Regions from separate parts of the Homo sapiens genome. Here all the other regions are linked to region 2. Evidence: fine-mapped expression QTL. A gene starts in region 2. Each other region holds a variant in brackets. All regions are shown on one strand. Distances are from middle to middle.

Evidence for each region. PIP is the estimated chance that this variant, and not a neighbour inherited with it, causes the effect.
Region 1: its variant is the best candidate, but not a certain one, in a credible set for the expression of GOPC in whole blood (INTERVAL, PIP 0.87).
Region 3: its variant is the best candidate, but not a certain one, in a credible set for the expression of GOPC in whole blood (INTERVAL, PIP 0.67).

What each region holds. Positions count from the first base shown.
Region 1 is chr6:117,553,966-117,565,150 of GRCh38, reverse strand. It overlaps GOPC (golgi associated PDZ and coiled-coil motif containing), which reads left to right. Exons shown (of 9, transcript NM_020399.4): 9 at 1,767-4,882. The coding sequence ends at 1,897. It also overlaps a transcript of DCBLD1 not described here. Among named protein-coding and RNA genes, the nearest start is that of GOPC, 43 kb to the left of the region's middle. RefSeq lists an enhancer at 6,824-6,873. The variant T/AT (reference allele first, on the strand shown) is at 3,263.
Region 2 is chr6:117,597,830-117,609,014 of GRCh38, reverse strand. GOPC (golgi associated PDZ and coiled-coil motif containing) reads left to right here and starts at 6,504. Exons shown (of 9, transcript NM_020399.4): 1 at 6,504-7,011. The coding sequence starts at 6,727. It also overlaps the pseudogene NEPNP. RefSeq lists enhancers at 6,113-6,402, 6,533-6,622.
Region 3 is chr6:117,567,123-117,578,307 of GRCh38, reverse strand. It overlaps GOPC (golgi associated PDZ and coiled-coil motif containing), which reads left to right. Exons shown (of 9, transcript NM_020399.4): 3 at 837-860; 4 at 2,956-3,131; 5 at 4,676-4,841; 6 at 7,353-7,448; 7 at 8,572-8,736. It also overlaps a transcript of DCBLD1 not described here. Among named protein-coding and RNA genes, the nearest start is that of GOPC, 30 kb to the left of the region's middle. The variant C/A (reference allele first, on the strand shown) is at 7,645.

The DNA of each region.
Region 1 (11,185 bases), 44 kb after region 2:
TGTCATTAGACAAATGTTATTTATATTAACCTTCTGGATTTATTGTCATTTTTAACAAAGAAATGAATTTTTTTTTAGATTTTTCAATTTTACCTACTAATATGGGAAACATCAGTAGCTATAATCCACATAAACAGAAGCTTCTTGGAGTCCTCAATGCTTAGTATAAAGGCCTCCTGAGACCAAAATGTTGAACTCCTGGCATGGAGTTTTATGGTGAACTGATAAACTGTTGCACTTTTGATAAACTTGTGTGTTGTAAACTGTCTGCACAAAGATAGCAGTAGCAGTTACTGTTTTCACTGTGCATCTTGAGCAAAACTATTGTGGCAGTATGTCAAAACCTTAATTGTTGGGCTGCTCTCCATATGGTTTCATTGTATTTCACACTTGCTGTTTTCTGTCGGGATTAGAAAGCCTGTCTCTTCCTTTTTTTTGTAACTGAGGCTAGAAGTCTTCTCTGTCACATATGCAAATTGCAGACACTTAAAATGTGACTCAACTAAAAATTTGTGTGTATATATCTTTTAACTGACTCACTTAAAAAAATGTATCTATTGGTTATTGTTTCACACGTCTATACTTTATAGATATATATATCACCTAAATAGGTGATATAGTCAACACTTATTTATTTATAAGCCTATTATTTATTTTATAGATGATCAGAATTCGTTTTAAGTTTTAGCTAGACATCATCTTGCCAACAAATTACATTTTAAGCAATTAACTAGTATATGCCTCAGTTAACTGAAGTTAATGTAATATGAAAGCAACAATGAAAAATAAAAATATAATTCACAGTTCAGTAGATATTTATATAAGTAGAATTGACTGAATTTTACAATTATATGTATTACTTCTAAGTCTTACAGACAGCTTGATGGTGGCTCATGCCTGTAATTCAAGCACTTTGGGAGGCCAAGGCAGGAGGATCGCTTGAGGCCAGGAGTTACCAACCTGGGCAACATAGTGAACCCTGTCTCTTCAAAAAAATTTTTAAAATATAGCTGGACATGGTGGCACATGCTTGTAGCTCCAGCTACTCAGGAGGCTGAGGTGGAAGGATTGCTTGAGCCTAGGAGGTCAAGGCAGCAGTGAGCCGTAATCATGCCACTGCAATCCAGCCTGGGCAATAGAGTGAGACCCTGTCTCAGAAAAAAAAAAGAAAAAAAAAAAAGGAAAGGAAAACTTGATAGGAAACTTAATACAATTTTTACATAAGCCCAATATAGTATTTTTAAATCTGTACAATATTTGATACCTGCCATAAGAGGGAAGAATTCCCCTGTTAGGAATTACTGATTTGATTAATATAAGGCATTATTTTTGCCTCAGATTACTAATGTTAATTACTTGGGCATTCCTTTGTTTTTCACTCAATAAACTTATACAACTAACTTTTTTTTTTTTTTTAATTTTTTTAATCGAGACAGAGTTTCACTCTGTCACCCAGGCTAGAGTGCGGTGGTACGATCTCAGCTCACTGCAACCTCCACTTCCTGGCTTCAAGTGATTCTCCTTCCTCAGTCTCCCAAATAGCTGGGATTACAGGCATGTGCCACCATGCCCGGCGAATTTTTGTATTTTTAATAGAGACGGGGTTTCACCACATTGTCCAGGCTGGTCTCGAACCCCTAACCTCAGGTTATCCACCCACCTTGGCCTCTCAAAGTGCTGGGATTACAGGTATGAGCCACTGCACCTGACCAAAACCAACTTTTTAAACCAGAAAGTGTCTGCTTTTTTTTTCTCCTTTCTTTCAGGATTTAATAAGAAGGCAGTAACTGACACACATGAAAATGGAGACCTGGGCACTGCAAGTGAAACTCCGCTAGATGACGGTGCTTCAAAATTAGATGATCTGCACACTCTGTATCATAAAAAATCTTATTAAATTGACCATATCTCCAGACAAGATTGTTAATCAGACTATTCTGAATTTGGGGCACTGGGGAAGATGGTGACAAAGACTACAAAATCAGGGGAGGCTGTTTGTTGCCTAAATGAAAGGCGGGTACCTCAGGGCTTCATGTGAACAATTCTCAATGCATAAAACACCCTGTTTTCTGTGGTAGACCATAATTAGCTATTGCATGTAAAGCAATTTTGATTTTCTTGAACTTGTAAGCACCAAAGCATGTGTTTCCCAAAGGGGTATTACTGGGCTCTTAAGTACCAAATGAAACCCTACTGTTTTACTTGGTTCCTTTTCCCTTTAGTAGGAGGACAGTGCTAACTGGAATTTTATAAGGAGTACCCTTTAAAATACAGAGAGTAAGTGAATTCATATTTTATATTCTAGAATGTTAACTGTGGTATTTCAGAAGACAGAGCTTGACTCAATGAATTGTAGAAATATAGGCTTGACTTAATTTTTGTAACTGAAAGGCTTTAGACTTAAAAAAATTTATTGTGCATCCTAAAATCTAAACCAATTATTAATGATCATTTATTGTAATGAGTTTGCATTTCAGCTTTATTCAATGCAGTACAAAATAGTTTTCTTTAAGCAGTCTTTTATCAATCAATGCTGCACTAGAAATAGATTCTCAAAAGTTACTAAACATTTTACTTTTTTTGTTTTTTAAAAGAAATGCAGATGAGTGTAAAACATCTGTTCTCAATTATGTTGATCTGTGTGCGCAGTACTGGAGCATTTACCCATTCATGTTGAGCCTCAAATGCTTGTTTTCTGGGGTCCACAAAAGACAGTTTTATACATTTTGAGTTGTTCATAAAGTTTGTCTTGTGATAGTCCTGGCACTTAAAGACAAATTTTTCTGGTAGTAAAAGTTCAGATTTATTACTATGTCATGAAACACAGTACATTCAAATCAAACGGCAGTTTTCTTTCTAAGTAAATGATTTCCAGTCATCTAAAAGGTGGGCAAGATGAGATAAAGACATTTTGATACAGTAATTGTTTTGGTTGGGTTTTCATGTCAGTTTATGTTTGACTAAAGCTCTCTTCATATGCAGGTTTATAAATTTGTTAGGTCTGTTGTCCCATGATTAAACATGGAGTGCCTCCTCTCTGATTTAATATTCTGCAGGTCATTGTAACCTGCTAGGCAAAGTCACAACATTGCATTAAAGAGGTGATAGCTTTGCTAATATCACTGTTTTAAAGGACGTACAGTTAAAGGAATATTAAGTGGGAGAAAGCCTACAAGGCTTTTAGAATATTATCAGTATCTTCATTTCTGGTATTCAGATGTTATGTGATAAAACACATTTTTTTTGGCTTTCCCAGATACAC[T/AT]ATATATTTGTTCAAGGGTAAATCTATAAAATGTATATACTTTATTTTGTGGTTTTGCTATTTATAAATTTAATGTTTTAACTGTTGCTCATTTATGGTTTGTTTTGGGTGGTGGTGTTCATCTGTATATCACCATGTTAATTTGTAATGGAAGTGCACTTCGTAGTGTATATTGTTACTGACATTAAAATACTTTATAGCATTGTCTCTGAGCAAAAGCTAGTATTTAATTGTACAAATGAATAAGCAAGTTACATGTTATTGTTTGCTCTTGACAGGGTAGGCCTCTTAAAAGAAAAAAAACAACTTGTTTTTTCTTTATGAATCCCCTATGCCAAACACATACCTTCCATGCATGACATGAGATCTGCAAACTGGATTTTAGCCACCGTATTTATTTAGTCAAAAAAATTGTCCATTGTAGCAGACCCGAAAACCTTTTTGCTGTGACATGAAACCATGTTATTCTTATCTTCTTAAAACACAGCCTGGGATGGAATGGCCATGGCATTTTTTTCAGAGAACATCCTTTATCTGCTATGACTGAATCCTTAGGAAATGTAAGCTATAACCCTTTGATTTTCAAGAACTACCGAATAAGTGTATGAAGAGGTGGTTTTTTAAAACTTCAAGTTGGAATTTTTATGAGGTCACTGTGTAATTTGAAGAATTGTGTGAGATTGTCATGATATAAATTCCTTTTAAGGACTGATAAATAGAATGAAAAGTTTCCAGGTAGTTTAAAACTCCACAGGTCAGTTTCCTTTTCATTCCTGCTTCACTGTGGTTTATAAGCCTACGGGAGAGCACCGTTGCTCAGATGCTACTGTGAGCTTCCTGTCCGGTGTTAGAAAGTAACTAGTTAAAAGTTCATTTTAGAATGTATGGTTTTTGGGGATGAACTAAGAATTAGTTATTAGTTCCAAAGGACTGAGAACCAATTTTAATATTTTCACATTTATAGGAAAGAAATTCATATGTCCCTGAAACTTCTAGGACAAAACCAAACAAGTAAGGAGGGAACTGTTGCAAAGCCATTTCATCGAGAAGGGGACAGAAGGAGAAATACACACATGTATACACAAACAGAATGGTTGAGAAAACGTTTTAATAAAATGTGAGGGTTGTATGTGTGCGTGTATATATTTACACTTAACCTCTAAAATTCTCTTCTACAGTATCTCTGTTATGAATATGATGGAAAAGCAACATTTTGGTGGTGAGACTATTGTTAAAATAAATTTGAGAAAGACGAAAATTTTGTGAGTCTTGATAATTACAAGTCAACAGCTATCGAAAGTTAGCACAGCTTGTCTGTGGTGCTGTTTTTTTCCCCACTGCAGTGGACTTATGCTGTTTTCATGTTTAGAAACAAAAAGGTTTCATGTGATTCATGTGTAAGATGCACAGTATTTGACATCCTGATTATGTAATCCCTATTCCATCTATCCAGTCTTACACTTATGGTTGGCCTCAAATCTATTGCATTTATGATAATGTATTATATCTAGTTGAGTTTAATATTTTTTTATTAGCCTGTAAATAAAGATGGCATCTTCTACATTAAAATGATATTGATCTCATTTTTTTAAATAAACATTTTGTTTCCTTGACGTTAAATATTTTGGCTTGTTATTTATTTCTAGTAGTTCTATTATTTGTACCAACATGTCATAAAGTCTGTGCAAAGGACTTGGCTTAATTTTGTGTTATAAATATTGCCAGCTGTTGTTATCTATGAGGAAAACATTGATGAAAGTTAGAAAATCAATCCTGTTTTTAAGATACTATTTAAAAGGGTATTCTTCCATTTTGACATCTAAGTATATATGATTTAGAAGTTCCTAAGTTATATGTAAAATAATTTTTGGAAAATACTTGTAAATGAATTACTTGAGTTATGAACATTTAGAAATGTTATGAACATTAGAAATACATTTTTGTCACTGACTAACCTTGATTTAGTGCTAATACATATATGCTTTCCGTGTGTTGATTTAAGCTCCCAATTCACCAAGTGATTTGAAAAGAAGTCTTTTCCCCAGAATACAACCCCATAGGATATTGGTCAATTTATGAATTTTTTTTTGGTCAGTTTATGAAATTTTAAAGAGAACTTGTATTTTCATTGTTAATCAGTATTTTATTTTAGGTGGTTTTATAACTAACCTTAAAGAAACACTTTAAAAGTATTGCAAATTACCGTGCACTGTTGGTGCTGAATATTTGTTCAATAATGAACCTTTTTCAGGTGTGATTTGAGAGCTATAATCACCACGGCAGCAGCCATGAGAATGCATCTGTCAGTTCTCGTGCAGGAGGGAGCATAGCTTACTGAAGGTCCAGCTGCTGTGGTCTGAAATCCATCCCTGTGTACATGGTGAGGCTATGCTCCTCCATGCTGCTGCCAGTCAGTGACTGATTATGACAGGGATATTATATGATGACTCCTCAACTTTAGCTGGAGCACTCCACGATGGTCTTGCCAAACTCCCTTAGGATTACATTGTAGTCCAAGTTGCTTTCACCCAACCTTCCTTCCTCCTTTCATTCACCTTGGGTCTTAACTCCATTGTGATCTCATTGCCTTCCAGCCTCCAATCAACTCCAGCTTCCTACCTATTTTTCCTCACTGGCATTGCCGTTAATAAATCTGTTGCACAGCAGATCCCTTTTTGGTGTTGGCGTCTGCTTCTTAGAGAGGCTAGATTAACACAAGTGACCATGAGTGAGATTTGAGGAAACAGGTAATAAGATGGGCATTAGGAACCCACCCAAAGGGTAAAGACAGTGACATCTGGTTGGTGAGTATAGTTTATCTAGTCGTTGGCACAAAATCATGGCTCAGTGGCTATTTCACAAATGGTGTGCAGAAAAGAGTTAACAGAACAGGCCTGAACCTGTTGTCTTTAGGTCTGCTTGCAAGGTTGGACCTTGGCTAGCGTCCAGCAATTTGGATATCAGGAGTATTCCCATTATCCCCTTGCTGGTAAGTGCGGTTTACTGTGCCTGAAGTGTTTGTACAAACAGTAGGATTTTTGTTGAACACTTACTTTCCTCTGGGAATCTAGAATTTTGGTACATGCTAGGCAGAGGGTACCTACACTGACTTCCCTAAAACCTTGACTCCTAGGTTCAGTCAGGCAAGCTTCCTAGGTGGACAACACTTGATGTATTGTTACACATTATTGCTAGAGGAATTAAGCATGTCCTGTGTGACTCCATTGGGAAATGAATCTTGGAGCTTGTACCTGATTTTCTTGGGACTGTGCCCATATGCCTTTTCCCTTTCCTCATTTTGCTTTATATTCTCTGTAATAAATCATAATTGTGAATAAAGCTTTGCTTAGTCTGATGAGTCCTAGCAAACCACTCAACTTGGGGAGAGTTTTGGAGACTTGGGACTGAAATTGGAAAACATTTTATTTAAATTGGAAAAAATTATTAAATTGGAAAAAATCCAGCTTATGGAGAGGGGAACTCTCCAGGAGGGTCAGTGATGCAGACATTTGAAAAATGTGGGAGAACAACATCTACAAGAATAGCAGAGTTGGCCGGTTACAGCAGGATTGTATTAATGACCTACAGAAATGGATGGAGGGGGGCAGCTCCCAAGGAGGCCTTACCTCCTACAATGGAGGGATTGAAACAGCTGAGCTTCAGGCTGAACACCTAAGTGTTAAGAGTTGCTGAGTTTCAGACACTTGAATGTTCAGCGAAACCTCTTCTATTTTGTGAAAGTCAAGGCCCTGGTGAGGAAAACCTAGAACCATGGGGAGATCTGGATGGCTGCACCTGAGAGACTTTGCAATCTCTACTGGACTGTTGGTCTTAAGAAGAAGCCCACGCTTCTCTAATAAGACCTTGTACCTTGTCTATGCTCCAAGATGTTACAGAGGCTGCTACTAACCACATCCCTAAGGCAATACCTGCCCCTACCTAGTCTGCTGCCAGGCCTGTAACTAGGGCTAAATCCTAGTAAAGCCAGGATGGGAGATGTGCTGGGCCTGATAAAGGAGAAAAGAAACTACACAAAAAGTGTAAGAATTAGCTAGCACATTCTGGCAAAAACCAAAGGAGTACTCCTAGAACTGAATTTTATATTTTTTATTTTTATTTTTTTTGAGACGGAGTTTCACTCTTGTTGCCCAGGCTGGAGTGCAATGGTGCAATCTTGGCTCACTGCAACTTCCATCTCCTGGGTTTAAGTGATTCCTCTGCCTCAGCCTCACAAGTAGCTGGGATTACAGGTGCGTGCCACCACGCCTGGCTAATTTTTGTATTTTTAGTAGAGACGGGGTTTCACCATGTTGGCCAGGCTGGTCTTGAACTTTCTGACCTCAGGTGATCCATCCGCCTCCCAAAGTGCTGGGATTAGACTGGCCACCGTGCCCAGTCTGGAATTGACTTTTGAGAGTGCTTGATCAGGGTGTAAACTTATTAAAAGAAAGAACTGAAATTAGAAAACATTTTATTTAAATTGGAAAAAATCCAGCAATATGTTGTTTAAAAGGAACATACCTAAAACATAAGGACATAAAAAATTTGAAAGTGAAAGGAGAAAGAATATACACTGGGCATATTTTCTCCAAAAGAACATGGATACAGTTATATTTTTTAAAAACAGACTTTAAGAAAAAAACCATTAGGGATAAAGGTTACTTAAATTCTTAAAGAACCAATTTACTACAATGTTAAATCTATCATCATAGTGGGAGATTGCAACAAAACTTTCAGGCAAATTAGGAAAGAAGGAAGATTTGAACAACAAGCTTGATTTAAAGTTTTAAGAGGGCATTTGGTTGTAAAAGAAATACCTCTGGCGTCTAAGTAAGAAGATAAAAAGTGAGCAAAAAACAGAGATTTTTCAAAAGAAAACATACAAGTGGATGATAAACATGAAAAAAAAAGTTCAACATCACTAATCAGAGAAATGCAAATTAAAACCACAATGAGATATCATCTTACACCAATCAGAATGGCCATTATTAAAAAGTCAAGAAACAGATGTTGGGGAGGCTACAGAGTAAAGGGAGCACTTACACCGTTGGTGGGAATGTAAATTAGTACAACCTTTACGGAAAACAGTATAGAGATTTCTCAAAGAACTAAAAATAGAACTACCATTTGATCCAGCAACCCCACTACTGGGCATATACCCAAAGAAAGAAAGAAATTATATTGAAAAGATACTGGCACTCGTATGTTTATCACAGCACTATTCACAATAGCAAAGATATGTATGGAATCAACCTAAGTGTCCATCAATGGATGACTGGATAAAGAAAATGTGGTAAATATATACCATTGAATACTATTCAGCCATGAAAAAAGGAATGAAATCATGTCTTGCAGCAACATGGATGGAACTGAAGACCATTATCTTAAGTGAACTAACTCAGAAACAAAGTTTACTACCACATGTTCTCACTTATAAGTGGGAGCTAAATAAAGGGTACACATGGACATATATAGAGTGGAATAATAGACGTTGGAGACTACAGAAGATAGGAAGGTGGGAGGTGGGTGAGGGTTGAAAAATTACCTATTGGGTATAATGTTCAGTATTCAGGTGATGGTTACACTAAAAGCCCAAACTCCACCACTACGCAATATATGCATGTACAAAACCTGCACTTCTACCCCCTAAACCTATAAAGATAAAAATATATTTTAAAAAAGGAAGATAGGTAATGGACTATAACAAGGAAAATTAGATAAAATATAGGCCGACACTAAAACTTGGAGTCTATGCGTTGGAAAGGTAGAATTTGCAATTTGGTAAATTGCCAGCAGGGGGCAGCAGATTCCAGATGCATTATTAATTTTACTTTTATTAGCGGTGTAAGGCTTTTTGAAACTCATCAAATAAAATACTCCTGTGAAGATCAATAAATTGAAGGCTGATTTTTCCAGGGTCACACAGCTAGTTAAGTGTCTGAGCCAAGACTCAAATCCCTCTCTTAATTCTACTTTAATAGGCCACAAAGAAGGAAAGGGGAAATATAGATAAAATTGTCAGCTTTCAGTCCTCCTATTCCAACAATTATTTTTATTTTTTCCATGCTTGCCAACTGCAGTAGAATTTTTCTAAAGTTTTCTTAAAAGGTGCACGGTTTGATGGACCCTTGGCTTGATACAGTTTTGATTTCTAAAAATGATGATTGTGCTGGGTTTGAATTTCACAAGAAACTGTTTGGCTGTAGTGGAGTGACTATAGAATGAGAGAACTCCTAGAGTTACATAGTAGAATTCTAGATCGTCAAGACTATAGCATTCCCCTGCCCCCACCAAATACGGAATAAGTTATTTCTTGCTTGTGTGCATACTGTCCCCATATTCTTTAGGAAGCAATACTGCAACAAGGATATTTGTGTCCTTTTGTGACATTTGAGGATGTGTCATGCTCACTAGGTGCCCTCTACTGTCATGTTCACCATGGTTGAGGGCATTTTTAACCTCTGCCTAAGGCAGTAACAAATGGGTTGTTGGCTTCTGAAACAGGAGAACTACAAAAAAAAACCCTGATTTTTCAGAGGAAAAAGGCAAACTGCTGACTAAACTAGTCATGAAAAAAGGGAGTAAATGCAAATATACAAAACAAGAAATAAGAGAGAAATACCCATAAAAGAGAAAACTAAAAGGATAATAATGGACTACTTTGTTCAATTCTATAGGAATAAATTTGAAAACTTTTCTAGGAAAATGTAATTTACCAAAACTGTTCCCAAGGAAGTTTTAAAATCTAAACAAACCAATTTCCATAGGAAAAATTGAAGGAATTGTCAAAGTGCTCTCCCCACAAATTACCAAAATACATGATTTCACAGGGCAATGCTACTAAACGTTCAAACAACAGCTAATTCTAATGCCTAGCAAGAGAACCAAAAAAGGGAAGAAAAATTCTAAATTGTTTCTGTCAAGCTAATAATATCTGATCAAGATTGCCACAAAGAAAGAAAAGCCCTGATTCACAAAAGATTTTTTTTTTTTTTTTGCAACTGAGTCTCGCTCTGTTGCCAGGCTGGAGTGCAGTGACTCGATCTCGGCTCACTGCAACCTCCGCCTCCCAGGTTCAAGCGATTCTCCTGCCTCAGCCTGCCGAGTAGCTGGGACTACAGGCACAAGCCACCACTCCCGGCCAATTTTTATATTTTTAGTAGAGACAGGGTTTCACCATGTTGGCCAGGACAGTCTCGATCTCTTGACCTCATGATCCGCCCGCCTCAGCCTCCCAAAGTGCTGGGATTACAGGCATGAGCCACTGCACCTGGCCCACAAATGAATATTAATGTAAAAATCCTAAGTAAAATCCTATCCATGCAAATTTAATACAGTAATGGATTCATATCTATAACCAGATGTTTAACATTGGGACATCTAATTATGTAATTAATCATCTGACTGGCTCTAGGGAGGAGTCCTATGGAGGAAAATCATATTTTCCATAGATGCTGAAAAGACTTTGCTCAAAATTAAGCACATTCCTTGTGAGGGGGAAAAAAAGGAATAAATAGATGCTTTCTTAACATAATAAAGTTTACCTCAACATAATAAATCTATCTCTGCCTAAAAGCCAGCATCATGCTAAGGTGGGAGCTACTAGAAGTATTTAATATGGTACTGGAAGTATTGCCAATAGAATTAAATGTACACATAAATATTGGAAAGGAGATAGCACTAGCACTATTTGCAAACGTGATCAAATTCCAGAAAAACCTAAGAGAATCAACTAAAAGCTACTAGGAATAATAAGGACATTTAGTAAAGGAGCAGCATACAAATTAGTCACAGAAATCGAACAGGAAGGCTGCATATAATAGCTAACACCACGTGGCACTTATCATGGGTCAGACACTGTTGTAAGGGTTTTATGTACATTAATCCTTGTAATCTTCACCACAACCCTATAAGGTATATACC
Region 2 (11,185 bases):
CCCCTGGCCGGGCGCGGTGGCTCACGCCTGTAATCCCAGCACTTTGGGACGCCGAGGCAGGCGGATCACGAGGTCAGGAGATCGAGACCATCCCGGCTAACACTGTGAAACCCCGTCTCTACTAAAAATGCGAAAAATTAGCCGGGCGTGTTGGCGGGCGCCTGTAGTCCCAGCTACTCGGGAGGCTGAGGCAGGAGAATGGCGTGAACCCGGGAGGCGGAGCTTGCAGTGAGCCGAGATGGCGCCACTGCACTCCAGCCTGGAGGACAGTGAGACTCCGTCTCAAAAAAAAAAAAAAAAAAAAAAAAAAAAAAATTGAAAACCCCTGTCTCTGATAAAAGACATTTTAAAGATTAAACAAATTATGTATATGATTCTTTTTAAATATATTTTCTCCTTCTGAAGCACGTTGCATAAAGAGCATACGTTGAAAGTAACACAGAAAATTAAATTCTTCTACTACTTAACTTCTCTAAGCCTCATGTTTGTTCTTCTACAAGATAAAATGGGGGAAATAATTTCCACTTTAGAGAAAGGAATAGATGAAGCAAACTAAAGTTTATCAAGTTGATGGGCAAAAAGTAGGATCTCAACAAATGATAGTTGGCGTATCAGTTTAAGTTATGGATTGCAAGCAACAGAAACAAATTCTGGCCAATTAAAGCAGAAAAAGAATTACTGAAAGAAAATTGGGTAGCACAATGAAGTATAAGAATGCCTGGAGAATGTGAATTGGAAATGGCCAAGAATAAAGGAAGGCTGCATAGTCAGAATCACAAGCAAAATTGCAAAATTGCACCTCAGTTGAGTGAGGACACCATTCCTGCTGCCACTACAGAACACGAGTGCACCAGCCTCTACCACAAACCTGAATCTAGCACAACACCAACACTAGCATGGCTGCTGCTGAAACTGCTATCTTCACTCCCTCTCCAATCCCTACCAAAAGGAATGCTCCCAATCCTGCCTCACTATCTCCATGTTAAAAATTTCAGGTGGATAATTCTAGTTAGCTGAGTCTAGGTCACAGCCCTGTGCTCTACCTGTCACAGAGTCAGGAAAGTGATCATCTGACATTTTCAGCTTATTATGGAAGAAGAATTCTCTCTCTCACCAAGTAACATAAAATGGGAAATTCCCTAGAGGAAGGGAGCTCAAATATGGAGAGTATCCCACATGTAGTGACAAATTTTCACTATAGAAGTCTTTTCATCCTAACTCCCTCTGCTCACCATGGCCACAAAAGCCAAACAAATTCTGAGTGAGTTACAATCATCTGGGGACAAAACAAATACTATCTCCAGCAATTGTTGTGATAGAGCTTTTTGTGTAATAGTTTCACTACACTTTTCTGACTTTTAGTTTCTTTTTCTTTTTCCTTTTTTTTTTCTTTTTTTTGAGACGGAGTTTCGCTCTCATTGCCCAGGCTGGAGTGCAATGGTGCAATCTCGGCTCCCTGCAACCTCTGCCTCCCAGGTTCAAGTGATTCTCATGCCTCAGCCTCCTGAGTAGCTGGGATTACAGGTGAGTGCCACCACGCCTGGCTCACTTTTGTATTTTTAGTAGAGACGGGGTTTCACCACGTTGCCTAGGGTGGTCTCGAACTCCTGACCTCAGGTGATCTGCCTGCCTCGACCTCCCAAAGTGCTGGGATTACAGGCATGAGCCATGGCACCCAGCTGAAATTTCTAATTAGATAACTTATACTTTTCAGTCAAAACTCGAAAAAATAATTATTGTTGAAGGGTATTTGGAATACAACTGTTTCGGAGGCCCTTAGTAGACTAATTTATAAAAAAAAAAACAGAAGGTGATGAAGGAAAGTCTATGTTTGATCCATACAGTCTGACACTTGAGAAATAAACAGTGACTTCACAGTGGACAAAAGAAGAAGAAAACATGAGTAGGAAACTCTGATACTACTGTTGATAAATGGTGGTTTCAGACAAGGCTGAAGCAAACCTGGAGCTGTGGGAAGTGGTAGATGAAGAATGTACATCGGGGAAAAGGGGAAAAGCAGTTATAGTCTGTCTTTGATAGTGTAAAATTTATTATGTTTTGGTTTTAGGTTGAATATACTATACAAAACATAGTATCTAGTAAATTTTAACAATGGAATAAGCAAAAGAATCCTTGAAGCCTAAATTATAATGGATTTATTAGTCAAATAAGCCAGATCATTGTAAAATAAAACTTTAGGTTTGGAAAAGAAAGACTAATATGTAATTTATAGATATCCTAATCTCTGAGGCAATATAAAAATATATTAATATTTAGCTATGCTCTCTAGCATGTATCACAAGTATGTCTTGAAAAGTGAAGTGACTGTTAGTTTCCTAGGTAGAATGATCGAATACCTTAATTATTGAAGTTATCACACAAATAGTTATAGCATTCCTACCACATTCTAGGTCCTGTGTTAGGACCTGGGATACAAAGATAAGTAAGATACAGTTATTGTTGCCAAGGAACTCACAGTCTAACAAGCTCCAAAATAATATGATAAATGCGGTAAAAGATATTTACAGGAAACTAATTGGGGATGGAGCCCATAGCATCATATGAGGAGAAAGAAGGAAGGCTTCCTGGAAGAGGAGGTGTCTGAGCTAATTCTAAATCACTGTACCAAAATTCTCAAGTTTTAAAAACAAGAGAGCAAACAGTTGTCCTGTTTTTTGTTTGTTTTTGAGACATGATCTCATTATGTTGCCCAGGAGGGTCTCAAACTCCTAGATTCAAGAAATCCTCCCACCTCAGCCTCTCAAGTAGTTGTGACTACAGGTGCACACCGCCACACCCAGATCCCTTTGTTTATATAAGGGAAATAATCAGGAGAATAAGGCTAATAAATCCCTTTGGATTCCTAAACTTACTTCTTTAGCATATGTATCTGAAATTTTCAAAACTGTTGGTAATATGAATAATAAATTCAATAAATATAAATAATATGTATGAATACAACACTCCAAACCTTTCCTACATTGATTAAATAAAATGCTAGTGGATTTTTACTTTCTTCATTCACCATACATACAACTTGTTATAGCCACTAACAGCATATACTTAACCCCTTCTCTTGGTAGGGTTACTGGAAACTAAATGAAACACGTGAAGTTAGGTACAGGGCCTGGAACACAGTAGAGTTCAATAAGTGATAATCTCCCTCTCCAGTCCAAGGTGGGTCTTATACACCCTTTTATTACAGTGCCCTTGCAATCAATGATGCTCCATAAATATTTAAACTATACACTGACCCCGCAGTTAATTACCAGTACCTATCAAAGAAACCCTTAGCATCATCTCTCTTTCCCCAATTTCCTCAGTCTCCAACCAATTTATTTTTAGTAATGCCTTGTGACAAAACTCTGTAGGGATAAGTTCCTAAAACAAGAGTGTCACATTTAAGTTATATTTTTTAAAAATCACATAAGCATGATTCATAAAACAGTTATTGGAAGCTTCTGCCAATCCAACTGCAAATAGAAGTATCAAGACTTTAATATCTGTGGAAAAACAAATCGCTCAAGTATTGACATTACATGCAATCTCCAATTCCAGAGTAGGTAAGGATAAGGCAGTAAGTGTAGATAGAGTACACCGACAACAGATGGCAGCACTTGAACATCAAGCCCCGATGATAAGCCCTCCTTTTCACATCCATGTTCTGCTGTGACTTGCAGATTTGCATAACCTCAATCCAGGTGGGCAAAAGATTATGTCTACATACTACAGTAATGAGAAGGGACAACATGACATGAAACTCGTCTGAGACACAGATGAGTCTATGACTTGTTGAAGTTGTAAAGGTAATAGATACGAAGCTGGGTTCTGCAATCTCGAAAATGGGGGTACCCACAAACCATTAGAGCACTGGAAACATATAAACACTTAAAATGTCACTCAGCTGCACCCACACAATGTAGCTGGAAGTTGATTTTTTAAAGAAATGAAATTTATACTCAAGTGTGGTTCATATAAATTAGAGTTACAAGTAATAGAAAATGAGTTATTACAATTTTTGGTAATGGTTCTTATATGTTAATAGATTTGTATATGGTTTCTAACTAGGAAGAAATTAAAAAGAACTTTTGGAACTTACTTGCTAGTTTATTATACTGCTAACTTTTACAAGAAGAAATAGATTCCTTCATTCTTCTGTATTACATGGTTAACAGCAACAACTTAGGAGAAAAAGACACCTAGATTGATATACTACCTCAATCTCTTTCTAGTTTTGTGACCTTACCAAGACACTTAAGCTGTCTGTGACTTTAGCTGTTAAAAAGTGATTACTGGGTGTGGTGGCTCACACCTGTAATCCCAGCACTTTTGGAGGCCTAAGCAGGAGGATTGTTTGAGTCCAGGAGTTCCAGACCAGCCTGGTCAACAAAGTGAGGCTGCAGTGAGCTGTGATCGTGCCACTGCACTGCAGCATGGGCGACAGAGCAAGATCCTGTCTCAACAACAACAATAAAAGACGTGATCATACCTACCTCATAGGATTTTGTAAGGATCAAAGAATTAAAGAAAATAGCATAATGCCTAACACATAGTAAGGACTCAATAATTGAAAGCTATTATAATTGTGGTTCGATGTATTCTCCCCCTGCCCTGCTAATTTTAAATTATTTACTTCGCGTTCCTGAAAATGCATTGCTAACTGTATTATGTGTAGATAAAGTGGCTGGGAGCTTGATAGCTGTAGCAATGTTTTTGCAAATATTGTAGATGAAAATAAAGCTAATTTTGGAAGGGAATGGGGAAAGATGTAAATTTTAGTTTTACATTATTTATTGTGTACTAAAACCTGTATGAAGGTCCCTACTTAAGTCTAAGGTCAGGATCTCATGATCCATTTTGATTAGCTAAGTTTGCTCAAGCCAAAGGACTTTATTGCTTCATGCTAACCAGTCTGCCATGCAGTACAAAGACTGCAATAATAAAATTGTGATTTCTTGCTCCTCAGTTGCCTTGCATCAGCGAAGGGCACACAATGCAGGCTTTGGGTTGTGATTAACCGTAAGGGTCTGCCCCAAGAACAGATAACAGCAGACTGCACTCAGCTAAATATGCTTCTAGGTAATGCAGGAGTTTCCACCAGCCTACTCTAATCACACAGGTTTCTCTTTCCCTTTCTAGGACTGTCTACCCTTGAACTGGAAGTAGGCAGAATGTAAAGAGAGGAGTTGCTGGATACTTTTAAAGGCACTGAAAAATTCAAGTTAAAGTTATAGTTGAGGGGTAGTAGCCTCACTAGCCTATCTTGAGTAAGGGTCATGTCTCATTCATTTTTGTGTCTTCAATGTCGCAACAGAGCTCTGCATTCAATATATTTGTAAATATATGAATTCACAATTTTGATTTTCTGAAATGTCACGTGTGAGGACACTACCAGTTTTCAAATAAATACACCTTTTAAAGTACAGTTATGTGCCAAATAACAAGGCTTCAGCAATGAATGGATCGCATAAACTATGGTGATCCTATAAGAGTATATGACTGTACCTTTTCTATGTTTAGATATGTTTAAGTACACAAATAGTTACCACTGTGTTATAATCGCCTACCGTATCCAGAATGGCAACATGCTGTACAGGTTTACAGCCTAAGAGCAATAGGCTACATCATATAGCCTGGGTGTGTAGTAGGCTATACTATCTAGGTTTGTGTTTAAATACACTCTAGGATGTTCCCTAAGGGATGATTAACCTAAGGACACATTCCTAAGAACATATCCCCATCTTAAGTGAAGCACTACTGTAGTTGCTTTTGAAATGTGTGACCTATGGTGTATTAAGAGGAATACCGTGTGCCAAGAAGTGACGCTAAGCGTTTTACCTTACAACTGAGTTAAGTAAAATTTGGAAACTTGGTTTCGAGGTTAATACATGAAAGGCGACACAGGTAGTATGTGACAGAGGGTAAGAATTGAATCCAGGTCTACCTGACTCTTAATCACAAGACAAAAAGTCTTCTATTAATTCCGCAAAATCTGGTCAGCCGCTTCAATGCGCAGCTTTAGGCAGTCCACACCTGGAATTTGGGGTCTGGTTTACCAAGAACAGCCAGTGTGTACACCCACTCCATCCTATCCAGGAACTGGAATCGAGAAGGTAAAAACGTGGCTATTGCGCATGCTCACACCGCCCTTCCTTGCTCTCCCCTCCCTGACCCTAGATGCCACCGCAGCAACTTTCTGGGAGGATTTTGGAACGGCTCCCGCCAACTGTTAAGTCAAACCGGCGGAAATCCTTCCTTTCTGCGACGTGGACACCTTTCTCATCCTCGGGCCTTTCCAACCAGGGTGCAGAAACCACGCGCCTCCGTTTCTCAGGGATTCAAGCCGTAGTTTGCCAGTTGTTAATATGGCCGCTGACAGGCCGCTCCCAAGCTGAGGCCTTTCATAGGCCAAGATCGCATCCTGTCCCCGCCTATTTTGTCCCTCGTGGCTGCGTCCGCCCAGCTCTTCGCTACGCATGCGCAGCGGGGGCAGGCTGGGAGGTGGGACTGACTGAGTCTTCCGTGTGTCGCCGCCGTTGCCGCCTCAGCTTCAGCCTCGTTACTCCTGCGGTTCTGTGACTGTGCTGCTGGCGTTAACGGCGCGAGGTGAAGGGAGGTGACGGAGTGTGCCCGCGCGCGCGGGGGTCCCCTCAGTCCCAGCAGTTCCCTTCGTGCGCGGGGGGCGGCGAGGGTCTTCAGCAGTCGGGAGAGGCCCTTGACGGCGCCATGTCGGCGGGCGGTCCATGCCCAGCAGCAGCCGGAGGGGGCCCAGGGGGCGCCTCCTGCTCCGTGGGGGCCCCTGGCGGGGTATCCATGTTCCGGTGGCTGGAGGTGCTGGAGAAGGAGTTCGACAAAGCTTTTGTGGATGTGGATCTGCTCCTGGGAGAGATCGATCCAGACCAAGCGGACATCACTTATGAGGGGCGACAGAAGATGACCAGCCTGAGCTCCTGCTTTGCACAGCTTTGCCACAAAGCCCAGTCTGTGTCTCAAATCAACCACAAGCTGGAGGTGAGCCGTGGGTGCTGGCGGCTATGGCATCCAACCCCAGGCTGCCCGGTGGCGTCAGATGCCATTTAACGCTCCAGTGAAACGACCCTAGAAAACTGCCCACCGGGGCTTCAAATGTGATGGGAGAGTGCATGTCTGAGGAGTGAGGTGAGGGTGGGGGACAAAAAGGGCCCTAGACCGACGTGTGAGTTCCCGGGGTACTGTCGTCCACCTTCCTAGTATCTCTCTGAGGAGGAAACTAATTACATACACCAGCCTCCATTGCACATGTTACATTAACAAACCTAACAAAGATTCTCTGTCATGAAAATACCGTAGGCCACCTTTTGACAACTGAGTTTTGCAGATCTGCTTTCACATTGATAAACCGAATTTGTATATGTTAAGACAGATACAGCACTGATTATTTTCATTTTAATTATTCCAGGTCAGCGCCTATGATTGCATACAGAGACATGCATAAACTATTTAGGGGAATCTGATCAAAGCTCTTAGGAAAATTTCGTGGTGCATAACGATAGTATCACTGTCTCGGTTTACATCCATAGTTGGTTGTTAAATTACAGGCAGATACCTCCAGAGAGCTCCCTGCAATTATTGAAATTACTTCTGACCTTGAGTTTTTATATGCTTGTACATTACTGTGTAATTTTCCAAAGTCTGGATTTATTTTTGAGAGAGTGTAAAGAATCATTTGCTTTAATCTCTGATCCTGGGTGTGGGTGAGGGTGGAGTGGCTGTGGTTCAAAAAAACAAAAATATCATATTGTGCAGAAAATTTAAAAAGGACATTATTAAAATATTTAGAAATCAAGATAGATTAACATTATTGCATAAAGAGTACTTTCTAACTAGGCAATTTAAGAGAATGGGTCTTTCTTTTCAAAAAGTGTAATAGATAAAAATGGGATAATCAGTGATGTGCAAAACTCTGAACATGCTTTCCTAAGAAATCATCATTACTCGTTGTCATTGACAGTGCCCATTATATCTATATCAATATGAATGTCAGTTAAACATCCTCTCCTTGCCTAGTGGTCAGCATTCTTTCTCTCCTATTAGCCATGAAATATGTGGCATAATTAATCTTTGATTAACATAGATTTACATATCCAAGAATTGTGGCTCTTCTCCACTGCGAGAACTGTTAATTTCTTCTATCCTTTTTGAAAAGATTAGAAAGTGCTAATATGAAGGTAATCACTTCTTACTGTAGGTAAATGAAAACATCTCTTGATTTCTTTATTGGTAGTAATTTCCACAAGAAAGCTATTTTTCTCAGATAGTGAAATTGCATTTAATGTTTTCTAGAAATAGTACTTTAACTTTATTTCATCTTATTTTATCTTATTATATTTTTTTCAAAAAAGAGATGGAGTGCTTTGTTGCCCAGTTTGGTCTTGAATTCCTGGCCTCAGGTGATCCTCCTGCCTTGGCCTCCCAAAGTGCTTTGATTACAGACATGAGCTACTGTGCCTGGCCATTAGTTCTCTAGCTTTAAACAACAAAGATCAAGAGTAGCCTTTACCACATGGTATAATTCGAATGTGTCCCCCAAATTTCGTGTATGGGAAACTTAATCCTCAATGTGACAGTATTGAATCTCCAATGTGGGGCCTTTAAGAGGAGACTGGATCATGAGTACTCTGTTCTTATGAATGGATTAATCCACTTATAGATTGATTTGTTATTGGATAAATGGATGAATGAGTTATCATAGGAGTGTAGAACTGGTGGTTTATAAGAAGAGGAAGAAAGACCTGAGTAAGCATGTTAGCATGCTCAGCCTCCTTGCCATGTGACACCCTATGCTGCCTCCATACTCTGCACAGATCCCCTGCCAGCAAGAAGGCTCTCGACTTCTCGAGATCTGGCCCCTCGACCTTGGACTTCTCTGTCTCCATAACTGTAAGAAATACATTCCTTTTCTTTATAAATTACCTAGTTTCTGGTATTCTGTTATAAGAAACAGAAAGTGGACTAAAACATCACACGAGAAATTTCATATCATTTACAACTGCAGTATCAACTGGGCATTAACAACTTTTTAAAAATGAAACAATATTTTATTTATTTTTAAAATGACCTAAGGAAACTTTAAACAGGGATTTGATGTCAGATATAAAAATTGAAATTGGGAGGAAGGATAATTTTCTCAGTAGGAGGCTGTGCTCCATTTTTTTTGTCTTTAAATATTTTAGATGAGTATTCAGAATTGTAATAAATTATGCATGTTCTTTTTTCAGAAATTAAAATCACACATTCTGACTTTATGTCCTGGTTTAGGAGGTTGCATTGTTTCTCAAAATAGGAAATGCTAGCATATCACAATGTGAGCATATTTTTTATGCTTGAAACTGTTGATTTAAAGATCATAGGAAAATGGGGAGGGGAAAAATCCTAATGATTTTGGTTTGTTTGTTCATTTGTTTGTGTTTTTTCAGTTACAGTCAACTTGTTTGTCTTTGATGTTAATCTGTACACGTTTAGCAGCTTCTGCCGTTTTTATGGAATCAATTGTGTATTGCTGTGGAAAGAAGTTCATTGTCAGCAGTGCCTTTCAAAGTAGACTTGCTGCTGTTCCATCTACAGAATTTCAGTGGTTGCTCCATATATTGTTTGAAAGCTTGAAACAATTTCCATATTTTCTTGCCCTTTTTTACTTTTTAGGAAAAGGATTGAATTTGTTCTATTGTTTTAATTATATGGACATTAAGACATATTTGAAACCACTTATGGTTTAATATGACAAACGTGACATTCAGTGGTTTCAGAGGTTAATACCTTTAATCATATTACTGTAATAAAATATTTTTATATAATGAAGAAACAGATACCTCCAATTTGGGTAATTTATAATGTAGTTAACATTAAACACTATATTTATTATTAAAATATTAAATTTTGCTGCAAAAAAATCATAGGTTACTTTTTTACTTGAATAGGCTATTAGGGCTATTCTTTTTTATTTTTAATTGACATAATAGTCGCATCTTTTTAGGGGGCACAGTGTGGTATTTGGATACACATAATAATGATGAAATTAGGGTAATTAGCATATCTGTCACCTCAAACATTATTCATGTTAGAAACAATTCAAAACCTGCTCTTCTAGCTGTTTGAAAATATACATTAAGCTACTATTAACTGTAATCATCTTATGGTGCTATAGAATACTAGAACTTTTTCCTCTTATTTAGCCATAATTTTGTTACCCCGGGCTGTGGACCAGTACTGGTCCGTGGCTTCTTAGGAACTGGCTGAACAGCAGGAGGTGAGCAGTGGGCAAGAGAGCATTACAGCCTGACCTCTGGCTCCTGTCAAATCAGTGGTGGCACTAGATTCTCATATAGATTCTCATAGTAGCACAAATCCTGTTCCTGTTGTGAACTGCACATGCGAGGTATCTGGGTTGCCAGCTTCTTGTGAGAGTCTAATGTCTTTTGTTGAAACCATCCCCACGCTGTCCTGTGGAAAAATTGTCTTCCACAAAACCAGTCCCTGATGCCAAAAACATTGGTGACCGCTGTGTTAACCAACATCTTCCTACCCGCCTCACCCTTCCCAACTTAACAGTAACCACTGTTGTATTCTCTACTTCTATGAGGTCAACTTTTTTTTTTCTTTTTTTGAGACAGGGCCTCACTCTGTTACCCAGGCTGGAGTGCAGTGGTGCAATCATAGCTCACTGTGGCCTCCAACTCCCAGCTCAGTTGATCCCTCTGCTTCAGCCTCCCAAGTAGCTTGGACTACAGGCATGAGCTACTATACTCAGCTAATTTTTCTATTTTATTTTTTTTTTTTTTTAGTAGAGATGGGGTTTTACTATGTTGCTTAGGCTGGTCTTGAACTCATGGGCTCAAGAGATCCTCCTGCCTCAACCTCTCGAAATGCTGGTATTACAGGTATGGGCCACCATGCCTGGTAAATCAATTTTTTTAGCTTCTACATTTGAGTGAGAACATGCATTATGTATCTTTCTGTGCCTTGCTTATTTTTACTTAATGTCCTCCAAGCTCATCCATGTGGTCTTCAATGCAGGATTTCATTCTTTTTTATGGCTAAGTAGTATTCCTTTGTGTATATATACCACTTTTTTTTTTTTAATCTTTTCATCTGTTGTGGAAATATAGATTGCTTCCGTATCTTGGCTATTGTGAATAGTGTTGCAATA
Region 3 (11,185 bases), 31 kb after region 2:
TATTAAATCTTTCTCAGTAATTTTTGCCAGCATTTCATTGACCATCCCCAGCTGCATGTCAGTCTCCTATTGGCCATATGGCCACTTCCAGTAAAACTGGAGTCTGTTAATAAGGAAGAAGTAAGAAATGGAATTGGGTACCAACCAGTAGCACATTCTTTTCTTTTGCTCTTAATATATTGTAAGCATTTTTCCTGCCACTGTGTACCACATATGTTTTGAGTGTGTAAGAGATAGCAGATATTTTGTTCCTATATGGGACACAGCAATAAATAAGACAGCTATTGCTTGGCAGAGGCAGGACATGAAATGATGTTGATGATATAATGAGAGTAATACATTTATAAGTTTTATTTGTTTTCAGTTAATTTCATTTGGTTAATTAGTTCCTAGTACTGATGTGTTAAAATTCATGAAAATAATTTTAAGTTAAACTCTTAAGTTTTCTAACTCTGTGAATCTGTGTTAGAAGGGTTTTATTTAACTGAAATAAAAGCTCATAACTGCTTCTTCGAGCTATTTGACATTAACATTCAGAAACAATCTAAATTTTCTCTAGAAAAGAATTTACCTGAAGTTTTAACATTAGAATTTGAAAGAGTATGATGAAAAGAACACTGTACCAGTTATGTTGACTAATTTTGATAAAACAAAAAGTTTTAATCTAATGCTATTACAGTTACTATTGTTTATAGATTGCAAATATATTTGTTCTAATGAACTTTACCCAAATGATATCCAACATGTGGGATTTTTCCTTATAATGACTATACCACTAAATAAAATCATTTGTTTGATCTTTTTCTAATTATAAAACTTTTTTCTTATATCTGAAGTCTGGCCCCTCTGTGGAGGAGCTGGTAAGTATATTGTTTCTGTTTTGCTTTAATATGTCACGCTGAAGTGTTCTTAGTGTTTTATTTGCATATTATATGTTGTCACTCATTGTATTTGAAAATAGCATTAATAATGGCAATTTTTTAATGTTCCAGTACCTGAAAAGTTCAGTGGATGGCCCATTGCTCTTTTCTCACTGCATGTTGTTAAACATTTTTCTTTTGTTAGTGATTTATAGCCATTATTTGCAGAGCCTGTCAATTTTTGACAATTTTTGAGCCTTGTAGCTTGCTCATACCTCTACTTCAAAGAGCAATTGGTTTTCCCACTTCAGGGTATTGAAGATATATCAAGCAGGCTTAGTTTTTAACCCCCTTAAGTTTCTGTTTGAAATTATTTCCAGAAAAGAATGTGCATGTTGGTTTCTTCTTCATCTACTGCGTTACAACTTTTCAAGAGTCTTGAGAATAATCGTATGGCCTTTGAAACAATTGAATTTTGAAATGCTTTAGCAGAAGTTATTTTAGAAAATAACAATACATTTTTAATATTTTTCTCATTACCCCAACCTAATCAAGTTCCAATTTGTCTTATGGCTTTACCTCTTTTGAAGATATAATCTTTGGTATCTAAATGTAAAATGAACATCTTGGGTGTTACCTAGTAACAAACAGGTTAACTAAGAACCAAGAAAATTTTTTTCTGGAAATCTAGAAATGGTTAACTTCAGTTTCCTTCATCTTATTCTTGCTTACCTCTGTTAATTTCGGGCCCAAGAGTTTGTCAGATTCATTAGGGATTTGAATCATTAAAACCCCAGTGAGTGGTAGCTTAGTATGTCTCCCACATTTCATTAATGTAGTATAAATAGCTCATTAAAGTAATTGAAAGTAGGTAATCATCAACATAAAGTTTATTTAGCCCATAAGCCAAAGAAATCTTGGTCTAGGAGTGCTCTTTCAAAAGTTGCATCAACTTTAACATGTCATAAGAAAGATTTTTGTTTGTATCTCCAAACTGGTTTCTTTTGAAACAGATACTTGCCCTTTTAGGACATAGGTTCTGAAATAAGAGTTTAATAATTCCAAAATTATGTTAAAAGGAGGATTCTAGATTGAGTTTTTCGAATCCTTTAAAACCAGTATCTAGAAATTACGTTCTAATCTTTTTTTTCCCAGAAATTGAGTCTGCTAATCTTTCATCTGTTTGTCATATATATAACAAATATTTTTAATCAAAGAAGTGATAAATATATCTAGCATTTAGTAGTTGTCATTAATTTTAGCTTGTATGTGTGTGTGTATATGTAAATATATTTTTTTTAGGATTATCGTATTTATTGACTAGTATTCAAATATATCTATTTTGATGTTGTTCAAAACAGTAGACCAAAGGAGGCACATTAAATTAGTACCAAAATATATTCCATGAATTGCTGAAAATTTGCTTAAATTTGTTTCTTAGCTTCTCAATATCCAGAATAAAAAGGGAAATAATTATGTAAAATAATCAGTGCCCATACAATAGAAACAATACTATTCATCATTTCCTCAAGAGAAACAATTTCTCTGGTGCTAAGGTAGGTTTTTATTTACGTCCTCACAAAAGGGACAAAGGGGGTATAGGGAATAATGTCTTCCACATATTGTGAACAAATGTAACCATGTTTTCATAGGATTTGTGGATTCTGTAAAAGCAGTTCTGCTCAGGATAAATGCAAGTTTTCAGTGTTTACGTGGTTTTTTTGATCTATAAATAACAGTTAAAATGTCTATTGGGGTCCTTATTTAACTCTCAAAAGGGTTTTAGAAGTAAATAGCAGATTCAACTATCCATTGAAGCCACTTTTACTAATATGTGATAACATGAGCTTAGAGTAGACTACTTTTCTTACTATACTCCATATCAGGGTAACCCATGGCGTGCAATTATTTTATCTAGAAGTAGTTCCAAGATGTTATGGTACTAGTTCAAAAGAACTACATCCAGATCTTTGTGTTCCATTTTATAGAGATGATACATTGTTGAACTGTAGGCTTTTGTGCATTTTCAGGAACATGGTCTAGTGCTAAAGAGTTTTTATTTTCATTAAATTATATGCTTTTAAAAATTACATAGGAAAGAGAGCTTGAGGCAAACAAAAAAGAAAAAATGAAAGAAGCACAACTTGAAGCTGAAGTGAAATTGTTGAGAAAAGAGAATGAAGCCCTTCGTAGACATATAGCTGTTCTCCAGGCTGAAGTATATGGGGCGAGACTAGCTGCCAAGTACTTGGATAAGGAACTGGCAGGAAGGTGTGTAAAAAATGGGTATTATTGTACTCTTAAGTGACAAATTGGATATTTAATGAGGTTGACTCTTACTTCTTTCTTTTTTTATTTTTTATTTTTTTGAGATGGAGTCTTGCTCTGTTGCCCAGGCTGGAGTGCAGTGGCATGATCTCTGCTCACTGCAACCTCTGCCTCCTGGGTTCAAGCGATTCTCCTACCTCAGCCTCCTGAGTAGCTGGGATTACAGGTGCCTGCCACCACGGCCAGCTAAATTTTGTATTTTTAGTAGAGATGGGGTTTCACCATGTTGGCCAGGCTGGTCTCAAACTCCTGACCTTGTGATCCATCCACCTTGGCCTCCCAAAGTGCTGGGATTACAGGTGTGAGCCACCGCACCTGGCCTACTCTTTTTTCTTATGGTAAATGAAGCATTAATCTTTTTCCTCAGAATTATTTTACAGTTGGTTTTAACTTACTGTTGTTAAATTAATACTGACAGCATTATGTATCGCAGATCTAGTTATCCATACTAAATATGTTTAGTTTACACACACAAACACTGATAGTATCTTACTGTGAAATGCTAACAACTCTGTAGAGCAGCACTTTTCAACTATTTTGTGCCTTGAGACCAGTACAGCCGATATTCACATGCATAGCAGAACTTCCATAAGGAATTCTTTTTATGATCACTGAAACCCAGTCTTTCTTGCCCTTCAAAAAAACGTGTTGGTATTTAGTTAATGACAATGATTTTATCATAATCATACACAGAATTCTGCTGTATTTATTAAGTAAATTATTAACAAACTTTGGTGACTTATTAGTACTAAATCATTTTGTGCATATTCTTTTAATGTCACATTAAAAACATGGAACAAAGAAAAAATAATTTATATCATCTTGAAGTACAAATTTTCTAGTAACTTTTTTTTTTTTTTAAATTTTGTGAGATGGGGTCTCACTCTGTCGCTCAGGATGGAGTGCAGTGGTGCAACGTTGGCTCACTGCAGCGTCCACCTTTCAGGCTCAAGTGATCCTCCCACCTCAGCCTTCCAAGTAGCTGAGACCACAGGCATGCCACCATGCCTGGTTAATTGTTAAGGTTTTGCCTTGTTGCCCTGGCTGGTTCTAGTAACTTTTAACCACATTTAAAGTAATCATTTTGTGAAAAGAAACTCTAATTAGAAGAAATATTTTTGTCCATTTATCTCATCTAAAAGCTAACATTTAATAGTATCTGAGTTCAGTGACTTTGCATGCAAGACATAGATTGACATTAATCTCATAAATTTTTTTTTAGATTTATTTGAATTAAGTATATGACTAAAGGAGTTCACATTAATTCCTTTAAAAATTTTTTTTACTGGTTTTTCCCTTGAGGATACCTGTTCTTTTCAGAGTTTTCATATTTTTTTTATATCTGAGAGACATCAAGAAGTTCGTGAGTATTAGTTTTATCACTAATTTGAGATTCATGCAAAAGCTACTTATGTTCACTAATTTTCCTGAATTCTCACTGTAGTGAATATAATGAAAAATCAATGTACTCTTTTCCCAATATGAAGGGTCCAACAGATACAATTGCTAGGACGAGATATGAAGGGACCTGCTCATGATAAGCTTTGGAACCAATTAGAAGCTGAAATACATTTGCATCGTCACAAAACTGTGATCCGAGCCTGCAGAGGACGTAATGACTTGAAACGACCAATGCAAGCACCACCAGGCCATGTATGTTTGCTTTGCTGCTGCTTCCCACCCAGCCTCTTCTTTCTTTCTTTAATCACAGTTGCTTTCCATTCTTTCCTTTATTCTAGTATTGTTTGAAACCTTTATTTAAAAGTGAAAATGGGATTCAACTTATTCAAAGTAGATGAAGTTTCAACACCCATAGAAATTTTAGTAGCTCTTCACAGACTTACTAATGCCCTGAGAGTGCTGCAGACAGTGAGCCATTGTTAGCAAATGCATATTGCTATAATGTTGGATCATATTTCCAGTTTTTCCTGGATCATGATTGGGCATGCTTGAATTTGTTTTAATCTTAGCTTAGAGTGTGTGGTCATATTGATAATTTGGCAGATATTTTGGGGTAGTTCTTTAAGGGAACTTTTAGTAACTGAATCCAAATGTAGATTCTGAACTAACATTTACACCTGTTTGGTCTTGGATTAAGATAGAATTTGAGATCTGTAGCCAGTTGTCTGCTTCTGTAGCCACCATTATATAAAAGCTTCTATCTGGATAAATCTTTATTGAATTTTATCATAACAGCTGCTTGATAATATAGACCTTAATATATGAAAGCATGTCTCCCAAGGGTTCACATATCTTAGTACCAGATAATGTATGGCCTTAAATAGTAAAATAGTTTGTTGGCTCTGCAAAGATTTTTGTAAGAAGAATTGGTATGTAAATAGAGTTGGTGGAAGAGAAGTGGGGATAGCGATAAGCACTTATGCCATTGTTTTCTAGGGCACTGGTGGTTCCCATTAACTTCTAGGTCCAGTAGATTTGGGAAATGGAGCGGTTAGGAGGAAGACAAAGTAGTTTGTATCAGATGTGTCTGAGTGATAAAAGCATGCTTGTTAAATTAGCTAAATATGAGGTTGGGGTTTTAGGTAGTGGCTGGATTATAGAAATTATTTTATACTAAATAGAGGAATTTTAACTTTAACCTGATAATCATGGAAGTTTTAAATAAAATGGCAGACTTCATAAAATTTACATTTTTTAATAGTTATTTTGGTATAGTGAAGAGGACCAAGTTGGAGTCAAGGAGATATATTAGAAAGATACTATGGTCATCCAAGGAGAAAGTGATGAGGTCAGGAGAAGTGGCATTTGAGAAGAAGGATAGATTTGAGAGGATTATAATCAGGAGGGCTTGATTGGTGACTAACTGCTTTTGGTTAAATAGTGAAAAAGAAGAGTCTGGGCTTTTAGTTTGAGCAACTGAGTGAGATCTGGCATTCACTGGGAAGGGAAATAGAAGAAAAGGAAGGATTTGGGGAAAAGATGATGAGATCAGTTTTAGACAAGTAGTGTTTGAGGTGACAATGGGGTATCCAAGATACATCCAACTGGACATATGACTCTGGATTTCAGAAGAGAAATCTGTTTTGAAGAAATATTAGGGAAACTATCCTTCTATTATACTTGAAACCTTGGAACTCATTAAGCCTGTTCCAAGTATATATGTATATATAAAGTATATATGTAGTAAAAAGAATAGGAGGCCAAGGATAGAAACTTATGGAGTGGGAGAAGGAAAAGGATCACTAAAGGAAGGAGCCTGGGATGGAGCTGTCAGATACAGGCCATCTAGGAAAGTAGTGTAATAAAAACTAACAGAGAGAGTGGGTTTCAAGGAGGGGTTGATGAACAGTATCAACTTTCTGCAAGTTTGAAGTAGGATAGTGACAAAAAGTGTTAATTGTGTGTAACAATATTGATTACTGGTGACCACAGAAAAGAAAATTCCAGTTGTGCATGTAGGGGCAAAACTCTAATTACAGAGACCAGAGGACTGAATGTGAGTGGCAAGGAAGTAGATATGATGAGGATGAACTTCGTGTAGAGGTTAAGGAAAGGGGGAGGATGGTAGTTGCTAAGGAAGATAGTGAAGGATTGAAAGGTTTTTTGTTTTGTTTTGCATTTGCACATGATCAGTATTTTAAAACTGGAAGAGGCTTGTGATTCATTTATCTGCTGAGTAGGAAAACAGCTTAGTAGAGACAGAAAGAGTAAGGGTACCAGAGAAAAGATTATTAGTGGATCAAGGCCCTTTATTTAAGAGGTAGACTCCAGAGCACCAAGGAATGTATAAGTAATTAATGGTCCAATTGGAAATTTGTTTTTCAACTCTACAACTCAGCTAAAATGAATGTATATCTTAAAGATATCCAGTGAAGATAGACACTTTTATTTTTTGAGGATATTTGTTCCTCAATTAATTCCTGGAAATCATTTCTTTTATAATGCCCTACAATTTAAAAAGAGATGTATCAATATTTTAAACATTATTGGCAAAAGGGTGAGAATATCATCTATAAATTTTGCATCAACAGAATAGCTATTTTCATTTTTCCATTTTATCTGTTACTTTCTTAACCCTATACTGTTTATCCATTCCAGGAAGTTAATACAGATTTCTAAAAGCAAGTTATATAGTATGAGTTTACTCTATTTGGTATGCTATTTAAATGATACTACTTTTTCTTCTTTTTTCCTCCCAATAAGGATCAAGATTCCCTAAAGAAAAGCCAAGGTGTTGGTCCAATTAGAAAAGTTCTCCTCCTTAAGGAAGATCATGAAGGCCTTGGCATTTCAATTACAGTAAGAAGTAGTACTTCCAGTATCATTTTCTACAGTTATCTAGTATAATCATGCTCCTTTGTTGGACATCACTGGGGAACAGAATATTCTGGATATATTTTTTAAATAACTAAAATTTATCCCCATGGGGATAAATGTTTGCTTTTGTGTAAATATTTTTTTAAGAAATAAATATTCCTAGCAACTATTAAGTGTA[C/A]CTTTAGTAAGCATAGTTTAACATTTTTATTATGATTCACTTAATAGTTCTGTGCCATATACTGTGATGCCTCTAGGAGCCCTTGGGAATAGACGTGGCTGTTTTCTTCTATGTTAAATGGCTTCAGATTGTATTGTTCTCTCTCGGAGTACGTGTATCTTTCTCTTGCCTCATTTATTAGCTGTCAGATTTCACTGGCTCTTGGGTCCAAATGTTATATATTCTTTTTTTTAAATTCGATGCCTTTAGGAGTCATTTTGTTGTCATCTCAGTGCTTTAATGAATAAGGTGGCTTTAATTTTCATTTGGTAATACTTAGGCACTGAGCAAGATCATTTGTTTTTTTAGTATTGCTTAATGTAGAAATGTTTCTTATAATAAAAAGCTCATCTAATCTATATTTCTTGAATACTTACCTTTTTTTTTTTTATGTGCTGCCTTCAAAGAGCATACATTTTAGCAGGACAAATAAGACACACACACACACCCCTACACACACGCAACAATGATATAAGCTAGAGAGTGATAGGTACCAAATACTGCATTTTTTCAATTCTACATTGCATATATTTTCATATTTTAACTTCTCTGAAATTGAAATTTATCTTATAATCTTAAAATTATTTTTGTGGCACCTAAAATAATTGGTCTTGTCATTCGTAGTGATTTAGACTTGATAAAATGTAATGGTGCTATGGAGTACTAACACATAAGTTTTTTTTAATTTAAGAATTTAGCCAATTTCTGTTCAATACTCTGATAATTTTTACCATTACTTAAGTAGCAAATAAAATTTTACCCAGCATTTATAGAGACAGCATAGGTGTTTAATGAAATATATTTTTAAGAAAATATTTTATCTCTAGATTAATCGGTAACTGTACCTTACAAAGAGTACTTTAATTTACTGCCCTTTGTTGTTGTTAGGGTGGGAAAGAACATGGTGTTCCAATCCTCATCTCTGAGATCCATCCGGGGCAACCTGCTGATAGATGCGGAGGGCTGCACGTTGGGGATGCTATTTTGGCAGTCAACGGAGTTAACCTAAGGGACACAAAGCATAAAGAAGCTGTAACTATTCTTTCTCAGCAGGTAAATTCCCTTCATGTAATTAGAACTGGATCTATCAATTGGTTATGAATCTATTGAACACTGTATACTTCCCTACGAAGTTTCTAAAGTAGTAAAGTGTTTACACATAGTTCTTGTTTCCTTTGATTTAATGCTTTTATAGCTGACATTCAGTCAGATTTACTGAAAATGGACCATTCCATTTTGTTTACTTCATAACTTTGAGCAAGTTACTTAAGTCCTCTGTCCCTCAGTGTCCTCACCTGTGTGGGAGGGATTGAAAGAAAGCTGTGAGGATTAAGTATGTTAATACATATAAAGTACTCAGAACAGGACCTGAGACTGAAAAAACAACATCCTTAATGCCTAGAACACTATATATAAGGTATTACAGAAAAGACAGTGCTAGAAGTAGATTGATTTTAGTCATGGAATATTAAAATTGAAATCACACATAGAAACTATCTAGCCCAACTCTCTTAAAATGAGTAAACTAAAGTTCTTAGCGATGAAAGGATTTACTCAAAGTTGCCAAGCAAATAAATTATAGAATTGAGATTCATACTCAGGAGTCATATTTGTCATACAGTTGTACTTAAAATGTTGTTTTATTTTATTTCTTTCAAGAATAGAGTTGAGGGAATTAGAGGCATTGGTAGTACATTGAGATGTTTCTTGGATTATCAGTGTGGTATGCCTCTGTAGAATTGCATCTCAGAGTTGAAAGTGAATATTGTTCATTGGTTCAATTCTATATGATGCATAAATCTTTGCAACATCACTACTTCAATAATTACATTACAGGGAAGACTTGCTGATATCAACCAGTCCATTCCATTGTAATACAGTACTGATTTTTAGAAAGCTTTTTCTCATATTAAGCCTGAAATCTGTGTCTCCATGACAGCTACTCACAGATCTAATTCTGTCATCTAAAACTTTGCTGAAGACCACTGCATCATCTGTCTCTTTCTGCAAAATGGTATTTTTAAAGCATTAGCTGACAAGAGAGATCTAAGAATGCTACGCTATTCTCTTAAGTTAGTGTTTTATCAATCCATCTTGACTGTCATCCAGTAGCAAAAGAGTGGGATAACTGGTGAAGGAGCTATCAATGGGCAGCCATAAGTTTTAAGGAAATGCTAACTAAGCACATATTAAAATTCTGAGGTATAACCTTAAACTGCTGGGAAAGAAGAGCACCAAAGAGACTAACTTAGTGAGTAGCAGTCAAAAATGCCGTGTTTTCTTTTGAGCAAAGGCAAGCCATAGTTTTCAGAATTGCCAACACCACACTTATATGTAGTGGTTGGAGTCTCTTATTAAATGACAATTATAGCTTGGAAATTTTTCTTTTAACATAAAACGATCTGTAACATTTTTTTCTTTTTTGGAGCCAGGATCTCACTTTGTCACCCAGGCTGGAGTGCAGTGGCACAATTACGGACCACTGCAGCCTCAACCTCCCAGGCTCAAACAGATCCTCCGACCTCAGCCCCCTGAGTAGCTAAGACTACAGATGCCTGCCACCATGGCCAGCTAATTTTTTTTTTTTTTTTTTTTTTTGTAGAGATGGGTTTTGCCATGTTGCCCAGGCTGGTCTAGAATTCCTGAGCTCAAGCGATCCACCTGCCTCAGCCTCCCAAAGTGCTGGGATTACAGGTGTAAGCCACTGTGCCTGGCATGATCTGTAACTTTTTACTTGAATGTTTCATTGTTAAAGAATGACAGTACAAATATTACACAGTTAGTCTAGCATAATATAAAGATTAAGGACTTCAGAGTCAAACTTTTGTTTTTCTTTATTCTTGTTCATTATGTAGGGAAAGTTATCTGCTTTCTGCAGGACTCACTCAGCTTTCTCGTTCATGTAAAAGAGACTATAATAGGATTATTCTGGGGATTGAAGGCTATAATTTATAGTAAATATATAAATATAGTAATTACTATTAGTACGAGACAGAATACCTTGATTAACACTATGTCTGTGTCTGGTACTCAGTGTAAGTTCTTACTCAAGACCTATTGAATAAGAAACAAAAAATCATTTTGTAGGAGTTTCTTGAATTAGTTAAGAAAAGATTTATATGATGTCCTTATGGCAGTGTACAAAAATCATTTTCTAGGGGTTTCTTGAATTAGTTAAGGAAAGGTTTGTATGATATCCTTATTTAATATCTGACTATTTAGATGTATTTGCTGAATTGCTGTGTGCAGTACAAAGTAGCAAATAACTTTAAAACTGAATACTTGTTCCAAAATTCTATAAATTTAATAATTAAGCATCCTCTTAAATTTTAGATCTATTAGCAAAAAGACTATGGTCAGTAGAAAGAGCTACTATAATGTTTAAAGGAACTGTAGAGAGGATTCACGAGGCTGATCAGACATGATGGCCTCACTACCTCTTTAGATTCTAGAATTTTATTATTTATTTTCTGGAAATCAGCTATCTCTTAGATCTCTCTAC